Regions from separate parts of the Homo sapiens genome. Here region 2 is linked to region 1. Evidence: fine-mapped expression QTL. Tissue or cell type: visceral fat. Region 1 holds a variant in brackets; the other region holds the start of a gene. All regions are shown on one strand. Distances are between the middles of the regions.

The links. PIP is the estimated chance that this variant, and not a neighbour inherited with it, causes the effect.
Region 2: FOXO4 starts here. The variant in region 1 is fine-mapped to the expression of FOXO4 in visceral fat (GTEx, PIP 0.94).

What each region holds. Positions count from the first base shown.
Region 1 is chrX:71,796,466-71,804,245 of GRCh38, reverse strand. No RefSeq gene overlaps it. Among named protein-coding and RNA genes, the nearest start is that of CXorf49B, 37 kb to the right of the region's middle. The variant C/G (reference allele first, on the strand shown) is at 4,265.
Region 2 is chrX:71,093,785-71,099,332 of GRCh38, reverse strand. It overlaps FOXO4 (forkhead box O4), which reads right to left and starts at 3,482. Exons shown (of 3, transcript NM_005938.4): 1 at 2,352-3,482. The coding sequence starts at 2,804. RefSeq lists an enhancer at 720-1,014.

The DNA of each region.
Region 1 (7,780 bases):
TTCTTTATGCTTCCCTCTCCTCTCCTCAAGTGAAGGAAGGAGTCTCTCCTGGAACTCTGAGCTGTGCTGCTGGGGTTAGGGGAGCCGTGGTGCATGCATTCTCTCAGCCACCTTGCCTGGTGTCTCACTAGGTCATGGGCTCCCTACGTTCTCTTACTCTGAGCCCAGCACAGCACTATGAGTTGCAGTCCTTGTATCCTAGACCACCTCTCAAGTTTATTTAGAAACCCAGATCCTGCAGTGGTGAGGCTTCCCATAACCCAAGTTCTGACCTCTGCGGTGTATAAATCGCCTCTGGCTAGGGCTGGTCTAAATGCTCCCTCTGTGGGCAGGCATCAGCCGACTTCTGACCAGTTTTGCTTTCTGCTGTGACAGGGCAGCACTGAGTTCAATGCACATCCCATAGGCACTAGGTCATGCTGAGCAATCCTTTAATTAAACAGCAGAAAAACACACAAAAAATTAATGTGCTATGAAATTTGATTTGCTAGTACTTTGTTGAGGATTTTTGCTTCTATGTTCATCAGGCATATGGGCCTATAATTTTCTTGTAGTGTCCTCGTCTGGCTTTGGAATTAGGGTAATGCTGGCCTTGTAAAATGAGTTTGGAAGTATTCTTAATTTTTCAGTTTATTGGATGAGTTTGAGAAGGATTGATCTTTTTTTATTATACTTTAAGTTTTAGGGTACATGTGCACAATGTGCAGGCTTGTTACATATGTATACATGTGCCATGCTGGTGTGCTGCACCCATTAACTCGTCATTTAGCATTAGGTATATCTCCTAATGCTATCCCTCCCCCCTCCCCCCACCCCACAACAGTCCCCAGAGTGTGATGTTCCCCTTCCTGTGTCCATGTGTTCTCATTGTTCAATTCCCATCTATGAGTGAGAACATGCGGTGTTTGGTTTTTTGTCCTTGAGATTGTTTGCTGAGAATGATGATTTCCAATTTCATCCATGTCCCTACAAAGGACATGAACTCATCATTTTTTATGGCTGCATAGTATTCCCGTGGTGTATATGTGCCAAATTTTCTTAATCCAGTCTATCATTGTTGGACATTTGGGTTGGTTCCAAGTCTTTGCTATTGTGAATGGTGCTGCAATAAACATACGTGTGCATGTGTCTTTATAGCAGCAAGATTTATAATCCTTTGGGTATATACCCAGTAATGGGATGGCTGGGTCAAATGGTATTTCTAGTTCTAGATCCCTGAGGAAACGCCACACTGACTTCCACAATGGTTGAACTAGTTTACAGTCCCACCAACAGTGTAAAAGTGTTCCTATTTCTCCACATCCTCTCCAGCACCTGTTGTTTCCTGACTTTTTAATGATTGTCATTCTAACTGGTGTGAGATGGTATCTCACTGTGGTTTTGATTTGCTTTTCTCTGATGGCCAGTGATGATGAGCATTTTTTCATGTGTCTTTTGGCTGCTTAAATGTCTTCTTTTGAGAAGTGTCTGTTCCTATCCTTTGCCCACTTTTTGATGGGGTTGTTTGTTTTTCTCTTGTAAATTTGTTTGAGTTCATTGTAGATTCTGGATATTAGCCCTTTGTCAGATAAGTAGGTTACGAAAATTTTCTCCCATTTTGTAGGTTGCCTGTTCGCTCTGATGGTATTTTCTATTGCTGTGCAGAAGCTCTTTAGATTAATTAGATCCCATTTGTCAATTTTGGCTTTTGTTGCCATTGCTTTTGGTGTTTTAGACATGAAGTCCTTGCCCATGCCTATGCCTGAATGGTAATGCCTAGCATTTCTTCTGGGGTTTTTATGGTTTTAGGTCTAACATTTAAGTCTTTAATCCATCTTGAATTGATTTTTGTATAAGGCGTAAGGAAGGGATCCAGTTTCAGCTTTCTACATATGGCTATCCAGTTTTCCCAGCACCATTTATTAAATAGGGAATCCTTTCCCCATTGCTTGCTTTTCTCAGGTTTGTCAAAGATCACATAGTTGTAGATGTGCGGCGTTATTTCTGAGGGCTCTGTTCTGTCCCATTGATCTATATCTCTGTTTTGGTACCAGTACCATGCTGTTTTGGTTACAGTAGCCTTGTAGTATAGTTTGAAGTCAGGTAGGTTGATGCCCCCGGCTTTGTTCTTTTGGCTTAGGATTGACTTGGCGATGCGGGCTCTTTTTTGGTTCCATATGAACTTTAAAGTAGATTTTTCCAATTCTGTGAAGAAAGTCATTGGTAGCTTGATGGGGATGGCATTGAATCTATAAATTACCTTGGGCAGTATGGCCATTTTCATGACATTGATTCTTCCTACCCATGAGCATGGAATGTTCTTCCATTTGTTTGTATCCTCTTTTATTTCATTGAGCAGTGGTTTGTAGTTCTCCTTGAAGAAGTCCTTCACGTCCCTTGTAAGTTGGATTCCTAAGTATTTTATTCTCTTTGAAAAACCACAAAGATGGGGAAAAAACAGAGCAGAAAAACTGGAAACTCTAAAAAGCAGAGCACCTCTCCTCCTCCAAAGGAATGCAGTTCCTCACCAGCAATGGAACACAGCTGGATGGAGAATGACTTTGACGAGTTGAGAAAAGAAGGCTTCAGATGATCAAACTACTCTGAGCTACAGGAGGAAATTCAAACCAAAGGCAAAGAAGTTGAAAACTTTGAAAAAAATTTAGATGAATGTATAACTAGAATAACCAATTCAGAGAAGTGCTTAAAGTAGCTCATGGAGCTGAAAGCCAAGGCTCAAGAACTACGTGAAGAATGCAGAAGCCTCAGGAGCCGATGCGATCAACTGGAAGAAAGGGTAACAGGGATGGAAGATGAAATGAATGAAATGAAGTGAGAAGGGAAGTTTAGAGAAAAAAGAATAAAAAGAAATGAACAAAGCCTCCAAGAAATATGGGACTATATGAAAAGACCAAATCTACGTCTGATTGGTGTACCTGAAAGTGACGGGGAGAATGGAACCAAGTTGGAAAACACTCTGCAGGATATTATCCAGGAGAACTTCTCCGATCTAGCAAGGCAGGCCAACATTCAGATTCAGGAAATACAGAGAACACCACAAAGATACTCCTCGAGAAGAGCAACTCCAAGACACATAATTGTCAGATTCACCAAAGTTGAAATGAAGGAAAAGATGTTAAGGGCAGCCAGACAGAAAGGTCGGGTTACCCACAAAGGGAAGCCCATCAGACTAACAGCGGATCTCTCGGCAGAAACTCTACAAGCCAGGAGAGAGGGGGCCAATATTCAACATTCTTAAAGAAAAGAATTTTCAACCCAGAATTTCATATCCAGCCAAACTAAGCTTCATAAGTGAAGGAGAAATAAAATCCTTTACAGACAAGCAAATGCTGAGAGATTTTGTCACCACCAGGCCTGTCCTAAAAGAGCTCCTGAAGGAAGCACTAAACATGGAAAGGCACAACCGGTACCAGCCACTGCAACATCATGCCAAAATATAAAGACCATCGAGACTAGGAAGAAACTGCATCAACTAATGAGCAAAATAACCAGCTAACATCATAATGACAGGACCAAATTCACACATAACAATATTAACTTTAAATGTAAATGGACTTAATGCTCCAATTAAAGGACACAGACTGGCAAATTGGATAAAGAGTCAAGACCCATCAGTGTGCTGTATTCAGGAAACCCATCTCACATGCAGAGACACACATAGGCTCAAAATAAAAGGATGGAGGAAGATCTACCAAGCAAATGGAAAACAAAAAAAGGCAGGGATTGCAATCCTAGTCTCTGATCAAACAGACTTTAAACCAACAAAGATCAAAAGAGACAAAGAAGGCCATTACATAATGGTAAAGGGATCAATTCAACAAGAAGAGCTAACTATCCTAAATATATATGCACCCAATACAGGAGCACACAGATTCATAAAGCAAGTCCTTAGTGACCTACAAAGAGACTTAGACTCCCACACAATAATAATGCAAGACTTTAACACCCCACTTTCAACATTAGACAGGTCAACGAGACAGAAAGTTAACAAGGATACCCAGGAATTGAACTCAGCTCTGCACCAAGCGGACCTAATAGACATCTACAGAACTCTCCACCCCAAATCAACAGAATATATATTTTTTTCAGCACCACACCACACCTATTCCAAAATTGACCACATAGTTGGAAGTAAAGCTCTCCTCAGCAAATGTAAAAGAACAGAAATTATAACAAACTGTCTCTCAGACCACAATGCAATCAAACTAGAACTCAGGATTAAGAAACTCACTCAAAACCGCTCAACTACATGGAAACTGAACAA[C/G]CTGCTCCTGAATGACTACTGGGTACATAATGAAATGAAGGCAGAAATAAAGATGTTCTTTGAAACCAACCAGAACAAAGACACAACATACCAGAATCTCTGGGACACATTCAAAGCAGTGTGTAGAGGGAAATTTATAGCACTAAATGCCCACAAGAGAAAGCAGGAAATATCCAAAATTGACACCCTAACATCACAATTAAAAGAACTAGAGAAGCAAGAGCAAACACATTCAAAAGCTAGCAGAAGGCAAGAAATAACTAAAATCAGAGTAGAACTGAAGGAAATAGAGACAAAAAAAACCCTTCAAAAAGTTAATGAATCCAGGAGCTGATTTTTTGAAAGGATCAACAAAATTGATAGACTTCTAGCAAGACTAATAAAGAAAAAAAGAGAGAAGAATCAAATAGACACAATAAAAAATGATAAAGGGGATATCACCACCAATCTCACAGAAATACAAACTACCATCAGGGAATACTACAAACACCTCTACACAAATAAACTAGAAAATCTAGAAGAAATGGATAAATTCCTCGACACATACACTCTCCCAAGACTAAACCAGGAAGAAGTTGAATCTCTGAATAGACCAATAACAGGATCTGAAATTGTGGCAATAATCAATAGCTTACCAACCAAAAACAGTGCAGGTCCAGATGGATTCACAGCCGAATTCTACCAGAGGTACAAGGAGGAACTGGTACCATTCCTTCTGATATGATTCCAATCAATAGAAAAAGAGGGAATCCTCCCTAACTCATTTTATGAGGCCAGCATCATCCTGATACGAAAGCCTGGCAGAGACACAACCAAAAAAGAGAATTTTAGACCAATATCCTTGATGAACATTGATGCAAAAATCCTCAATAAAATACTGGCAAACTGAATCCAGCAGCACATCAAAAAGCTTATCCAACATGATCAAGTGGGCTTCATCCCTGGGATGCAAGGTTGGTTCAATATACACAAATCAATAAATGTAATACAGCATATAAACAGAACCAAAGACAAAAACCACATGATTATCTCAATAGATGCAGAAAGGCCTTTGACAAAATTCAACAAGGCTTCATGCTAAAAACTCTCAATAAATTAGGTATTGATGGGACGTATCTCAAAATAATAAGAGCTATCTATGACAAACCCACAGCCAATATCATACTGAATGGGCAAAAACTGGAAGCATTCCCTTTGAAAACTGGCACAAGACAGGGATGCCTTCTCTCACCACTCCTATTCAACATAGTGTTGGAAGTTCTGGTCAGGACAATTAGGCAAGAGAAGGAAATAAAGGGTATTCAATTAGGAAAAGAGGAAGCCAAATTGTCCCTGTTTGCAGACGACATGATTGTATATCTAGAAAACCCCATTGTCTCAGCCCAAAATCTCCTTAAGCTGATAAGCAACTTCAGCAGTCTCAGGATACAAAATCAATGTACAAAAATCACAAGCATTCTTATACACCAATAACAGAAAAACAGAGCGCCAAATCATGAGTGAACTCCCATTCACAATTGATTCTTCACTTTTTATCTTTCGTGTATCTACTATAGATTTCTGTTTTATGAATACCATGAGGCTTACATAAAATATCTTATGGTTATAACAGACTATTCTGAGCTGATAACAACTTAACTTTGATTACACACAAAAACTACAATTATGCTCCTTAACTCCCCGTATATTTTATGTTTTTGATGTCACTATTTACATCTTTTTTAAATTCCATATCCCTTAACACATTTTTGTAGCTATACTTTCACAAATAGTTTTGTCTTTTAACCTTCATACTAAAGATATAAGTGATTTATACATCGTCATTACAATGAGTATTCTGGGTTTGAACATGTACTTATTTTACTCATAAATTTTCTTCTTTCATATTTTCTTATTACCAATTAACATCCTTTTCTTGGCCAGGTGCGATGGCTCGTGCGTGTAGTCCCAGCACTTTGGGAGGCTGAGGCAGGCTGATCACTTGAGCTCAGGAGTTGGAGACCAGCCTGGGCAACATAGTGAAACACTGTCTCCACACAAAATAGAAACAAACAAAAAAATTAGCTGGGCATGGCAGTGCATGCCTGCAGTCCCAGCTTCTTGGGAGGCTCATGTAGGAGGTTTACTTGAGCCTGGGAAGTCGAGGTTGCAGTGAGCCACGATCACACCACTGCACTCCAGTCCAGGTGACAGAGTGAGATCCTGTCTCAAAACAAACAAAGAAACATACAAAAAACAAAACCCAAATAACAAACAGACTCAAAAACCAGATCGTTTTCTCTCAGCTTGAAGAATTCCCTCTAGCATTCCTTGTAATGCAGTGAACTACTTTAGGAAGATTATTTTTAATTCCTTCTTAGAAAGTTTCTAAATCTCTCTTCTTTAGGGTTGATCAGTGAAGCTTTACTTTGTTCCTTTGGTAGTGTCATGTTTCCCTGATTGATTGTGACCTTTGTGGCTGTACATCGGCTTCTGTGCATTTAAAGAAGTAGGGACTTGGGCCAGGCGCGGTGGTTCATGCCTGTAATCCCAGCACTTTGGGAGGCAGAGGTGGGTGGATCACTTGAGGTCAGGAGCTCGGGACCAGCCTGGCCAACATGGTGAAACCCCGTCTCTACTAAAAATACAAAAAGTTAGCTGGGCGTGGTGGTGGGCGCCTGTAGTCCCAGCTACTCAGGAGTCTGAAGCAGGAGAATCACTGGAACCCGGGAGGCGGAGGTTATAGTGAGCTGAGATTGTGCCATTGCACTCCAACCGGAGCAACAATAGCTGCGGTTAGGAATAAACAACAATAGCTCCATTAGGAAAAAAAAAAAAAAAAGGAAAAAGAAAAACCAAAAAAGAAGTGGGGACTTGCTCCAGTGCTTGATGACTGGCTCTGGCTGGGAAAGCCCTTCACGGTTCAGTCCATCCAGAGATTCTGGGAAGACCATCTGGCATGGTGCATGGATAGACTTGCTGCTGGATTTCTTGGGAAAGCTGGCTTGGTGAGCAGGTATGGTGGAGCTGGAACCTGAGTTCATGGATTTGGGCCTGGGTCCTGGTGCCATGGGGACCAACCTGGCTATTGGGGCCAGTCTTGCCCTGGCGTGGGCCTGAAGCCCGAGGCCATGTGGGTCAGACTTCCTCTTAGCCTGTCTGGCGCCTGGCATGGGCCTGGAGCCTGAGTCTGAGAGGGCCAGCCTGGGGTCTGAGGCCAAAGGTGCTAGTGTGGCACTGGGCAAGCCTGGAGCCTTTAATCCTTGGGGGCTGGCCTGGAAGCTGGCTTTGTAGGTTCTGGCCTGGTGCTTGAGGTCACAGGGGTCAGCCTGGAGCTGGAGTGGGTACAGAGACTAGGTCTGTGGGTGCCAGCCTGAAGTCTGAAACTACAGAAGACGGCCTATCATTGAAGCAGACCAGGTCGAGGGTCACAGGGGTTGTCCTGACACTGAGGAGGATCTGGAAGCTGGGTCCACATGTCCAGGCCTGAAGTCTGGGGCTGTAGGGACTGGTCTGCAGGTGATGTCTGCATGTGTC
Region 2 (5,548 bases), 700 kb after region 1:
CTACTAGGGAAACGATGCTTTCCAGTGGCCCAGGGAGCTGAGATTGGCAGCTTCTTCAGCCCCCAGTGCAGCTTATATTTACTGATTGCCGCGGGGCAGGCTAGTTACACAAGGGGTTTGGCCCTCCCCTGGCCACCCCCCTTCCCGAAACCTGCCTTCTTTTCCCTACCTCCTTCCCAGTGCCTTTCCCCCATTTCTCAGGAATTTGTGCATAAACTCTTCAACCTTGGGGGCATTTGACCTCCCACTTGGAGGTCTTTAGTTTAGAAATTCAGGAGGAGCCCAGAAGTGCTTAGAGCAACTAGGAGGCTGAGTACATGGGACGGTCAGAAACTACTTGTTTCTCTGACTGGTGCTCTTAAGATAAGGAGCACCTTTGCCTGGGGAATGATGCTTCTTGTTCCAGGGTTCTTTAGCCAAAGAACTCCTTGTGTTCCTGGGACCCTGAGGTAATGGCATTTCAACTGTGCTGATGTTCCTTCAAGGAGTGGCACTTGTCCATCCGGCCTCACCTCATAGTAACTAAGGACCACAATGACCATGACCTGGCACTATGATTTCTCCTCTTTTTATCCTCTAATTCTGGATCTACTTGAGAAGATCCATTCCTTTCCCTACTACTTAATAGCCACAAGGCCCGTTTGTCTCCTCTTCTTTAGGCCTTGGAACTAGCAAGTGGTACACAGACTCTTAATTGGAGAGGTCAGTTTCCCAAAAGCCCATAACTCTTACATGTTGGAGGGCAGGGTGGTGGGGGTGACTGCTAATTGCTCCCTAAGCCACCTAATCTAAACTTTCTTGTTCTAAGTGAGTGCCGCCCCCTGGTGGGGTGGGAGTAACCTTGGCATATCATCAGGGAGGCCAGTTCAGGCATGAGACTTCCCCTCAGAGAGGGGTGGGGGGGCCTTGAAGTCCCAGGCTCAGCCTGATTTGACTTTGCCCTCATTCCAATTAGAGCAAGCCAGGCTCTTTTTAGAGAATATGATTTATAGTTAGACCTGAGTTCAAGTCCTCACCCTGCTGTTATTAGGTGAATTTCCTAACCTTTTGGTACCTAGTTTCCTAATGTGTAAAATGTGGAATCTCAGAATTGCTGTAAAGATTAATAAAATAAAAACTTTAAAAACTACTTTGTAAACTCTAAAGCCCCACAGAAGTGTAGATTATAAGGACGGACTATACTCCCACAATATAACTAACAACTTGTTATTTCCTCTACCCTGGAAAATGAACCTAAGGGAAAAGAAAAACAGCTGTGTAGGCTGGGTCCAAGGAGGGGAGCTTTTTATGAGCTGAGACTGTGGCGTGGCAGTCTACCCAGAAATAGTGCCAAGGGTCTCAGTCAGCTGTCCTATCTTCTGTTCTGCCCAGCCCCTAGGGATAGCACAGATCTGATCCCTCAGTCTCCTATACCTAGGGGAAGTTCCTCTGCTCATCCAACCTTCTGTACTTGGTTATATGCTGACCTCACCACCTAGAGAGGTACAAGCCAGCAATAGGGCTTGAGGCTCCCCAATTTTGTGATTACAGCCCCATATTTTCTCAGGACAAGTTTTTCAGAGTATCCTTTGAGATATTCTCTCACAGTTTCTTCACAGAAGGCCAAGAGAACTCCCAACTTTGTGCTCTAAAGTCAGAGCCCTACCTCCTTCTTCATGACTAATATTCCTTAACAGTAAAGGATGACTTCCCCCCAAAACTTGGATAGCCCCTTACAAGGGAGAGTTTCTTGGCAGCACAGGGTAAGCTGAGCCAAGTGGCAGCTCACAGCCCTTTTTCTTCTTAGTGCATGAGATCAGCTACCTTTCCCCATGAATATTATTGTTTTTACCCTTTGCCACTGCACTCCCTCCTCCTGGGTAGAGCAGTGCTAGAACAGTACCACTACACTGAGGTACTGGGAGGCAAGCAGGGAATCCAAGTAATCCCACAGGAATGGGAGAAAAGGTGTTGGGGTGGGAGGTGGGGGAGGAGGGAAGGGTAGGTTCATGTGGGGAATCCACACAGTTCCTGCTGTACATAGGATAAAGACTTCTCTGTGGGAATAAGTGTTTGGGGCAGCCCAAGCCAAAGTGCTGCGAATATTGAGCAGTGAGCAGAGAATTCAATTTTCTCCAGGGCAGGGACAGTGTCTTATTCATCTGTGATCCTTCAGCATCAAGCACCGAGTGTGGCATATACTATGTACTAAGTAAATGTTTGTCTAACTGGAGATTGAAGGTGGATCTCTGGGCTTCCCAAAGGGGGTGGGGGTGGGAGGTAGTAAAAGGGGCCCCAGAGTAGAAGTAAGGGAGGCTAGGGGGTCCAGGGGGTAGATGGTGTTGGGAAGAAGGTAAGAGGGTCATAATTACCTTCCATCCTGCTGAGCTGTTGCTGTCACCCTTGTCCTTGAAGTAGGGTACAGTACGGACCATCCACTCGTAGATCTGGGCAAGTGTCAGTCGCTTCTCCGGGGCGCTTTCAATGGCCTGGCTGATGAGTTCTGCATATGACTGATTTCCCCAGGCATTCCGGCGGGAGCCTCCCTTCCGAGGACCTGTTACAGCCCCCAGGATTCCGGGCTGGGGGCCCCCGGCCGGCTCTGGGAGCCGAGAGGGCAACAGGATCGGCTCTGAGCGCCCCTCCGTGTGTACCTTTTCCCCCAGATCTGGCTCCACCTCGGGCGGCTCGGACGGCTGGTTAGCGATCTCTGGTCGGGGAAGGGGCCAGGTGCAGGAGCGGGGACGGCTCTGGGGTTCGAAGTCGGGATCTAGGTCTATGATCGCGGCAGCCTCTGTGGCTGAATTCTCATTCCCCGGATCCATACGTGGAGTTGGACCTCCCCGGCTCAGCGTTCAGTGAAGCCTGCCACAGTCCCTCACGATGCCTCCCCTCAGGGGGGAAGCATCGAGGGCCAGGAGGCACATTCCTGCCAGTCTTCAGAAAGTCGCGAACTTCCCCCTAGTCCCAGGACGCTAGTCCCTAAGCTGTCCCTTCACACAGTTCTCCGATCCCCTTCCCGACTACAGCCTGTAGCCTCAAAGCTCTTTCTGAGATGCCACCTGTAACCTCTGCCGAGCGAAGACACTTTTTCTGCAACCTCTCACTCAGCTTCCTGCTCTTTTAAACCTGAGGCACTGTATCCCCTCATATATTGCGCTCCCATCACCGAACGTCTCCTTAGCCGCAGTTCCCTCCCCCTTTTAAGTTGCTGCCCCCCGGACACTCCTCCCAAATTTCCTCCACCCGGATTGCTGCCCTCCCCCACGCCCCGCTCCCCCGCGTCACTTGCCCCTCCCCTGACTCCCCCTTCCCCCGCCTCTTCCCTTCTCGCCACTCTTACTAGGGTCCGGGTCCCCGCGGCTGCGGCCTCCCTTATTCCCGCACCGATTCCCCTATCAACCCCCCCCACCCCCCGCCCCCCGGGTTTCCCTTTTGTTTTGCTCCAAGCAGCAGCCCCCTCCTGACGTCTCTGTTTACCACTCGCCGGGGCAGCCATCTGCGCACGCGCCTCGAAAGCCAGTCGGGAAACCGAGTTCTGCAGTCGTGCCACCCTGGTCACTCTTGAGGACTACATCTCCCGTCCTGCTTCGCGGCCAGGAGCCCGATACGGCGGCAGGAGAGCGGCGTGGCAGGATATAACGAGGTGGAACTTTAATTATTAGAAGTCGTCGCGGACTCTTTCTTTTCTTAAGAATCGTTTTTCGCCCTTTCCCCCTTTCCATTGTCTCCCTTGTGATTCAGAGTCGTGTAGGTGACCAGATTGAGAGGTGCTAGCCCTTTCCCTCCTTCATTTAGGAGACGGCAAAAGGGAAAAAATTATTCTCTTAAAGATGCAGGAGACCAAGAAGCAAGAAGCAAGGAACTGACTAGAAAATAGGATGTATGCACGTTGGAGAGTTGGGTGGGGGGCTTGTGTAACATAAACAAATGGTTAGCCCACGGTGGTGTTCCTCCTCACCCCCTTCCTCCTCCCTCCACCCGCCTTCATCCCCCCATATGCAGTTCCCACTGACAGTGAGGTCTCACTTACCAATCAGTTTCCTCCACTGGCTCTTCTGGCTTTCCCTTCAACACCGATATTCTCCAGGTTCACATCTCCAACGGCTTCACTTCTCATTCAACAGGTCCAAACTCATTATCTGTTCCTGCACCCGCACCCCTATCCTCTGGCTACCCTTATCTCTGAATTTGACTTATGGTAGTCCTGATCTACCCAGTCTCCCAAGCTCCAAGCAGCAGCTTAGAGGTAATTACCCATTACTTCTTCATCTCCGTAACTTTCTACATCCAAATCCCAGTTCAAGACCTATTTATAACTGCATTTAAATTGTAGGATCAGCCGGGTGCAGTGGCTGACGCCTGTAATATCAGCACTTTGGGAGGTCGAGGCAGGCGGATCACTTGAGGTCAGGAGTTTGAGACCAGCCTGGCCAACATGGTGAAACCCATCTCTGCTAAAAATAGAAAAATTAGCCTGGTGTGGGGCACGCACCTGTAGTCCCAGCTACTTGGGAGGCTGAGGTGGGAGAGTCGCTTGAACCCAAGAGGTGGAGGTTGCAGTGAGCCAAGATCATGCCACTGTGCTCCAGCCTGGGTGACAGAATAACACCCTGTCAAAAAAAAAAAAAGGTGCAGTATCATCTTAATTGGATCTCCTTCCATCAGTCTTTACCTCACTACAGTTTATATTCAGAGCTGCCAGCAAGGTTACCGTTCTAAGAAACATGTCTGGTAATTATGGCTAAAATTTATGGAGCCCTTATTATGTGCCAGTCTCTGTGCAAATTGCTTTACGAACATTAGTTCATTTACTCCTCAATCATTTACTCCTCAATTCAACCCCATGAGGTAGGTACCACTATTATCCGCATTTTATAGATGAAGACACTAACAATGCTCAGAGATTGACTTGCCCAACGAGGCAGAACTGGGATTATATAACTTACATGCGATCGTATAATTTCTTTCTTTCTTTCCTTCCTTCTTTCTTTCTTTCCTTCCTTCCTTCCTTCTTTCTTTCTCCTTCCTTCTTTCTTTCTTTCTTTCTTTCTTTCTTTCTTTCTTTCTTTTTCTTTCTTTCTTTCTTTCTTTCTTTCTCCTTCCTTCCTTCCTTCCTTCCTTCCTTCCTTCCTTCCTTCCTTCCTTCCTTCTTTCCTTCTTTTTTGAGACAGGGTCTTGCTCTGTCACTCAGACTGGAATGCAGTGGTGTGATCTTGGCTCACTGCAGCCTTGACCTGCTGCACTCAAGCAATCCTCCCATCTCAGCCTCGGGAGTAGCTGGGACTACAGGCATGTGCCACCACGCCCAGCTAATTTTTGTATTTTCTGTAGAGACGGGGTTTCACCGTGTTGCTCAGGCTGGTCTGGAACTCCTGACTTCAAGTGATCCACCTGCCTTGGCCTCTGAAAGTGCTGGGATTACAGGCATGAGCCACCGCACCTGGCTATAAATTTTGTTTTTTTGATCATGTAATTTCCCTGGTTAAATCTTCCTCTGATTTTCCCCATTGCCTGTGTGATAAAGTTCAAATTCCCTCGCAAGGCATGCCAGGCTCCTCAGATTCAG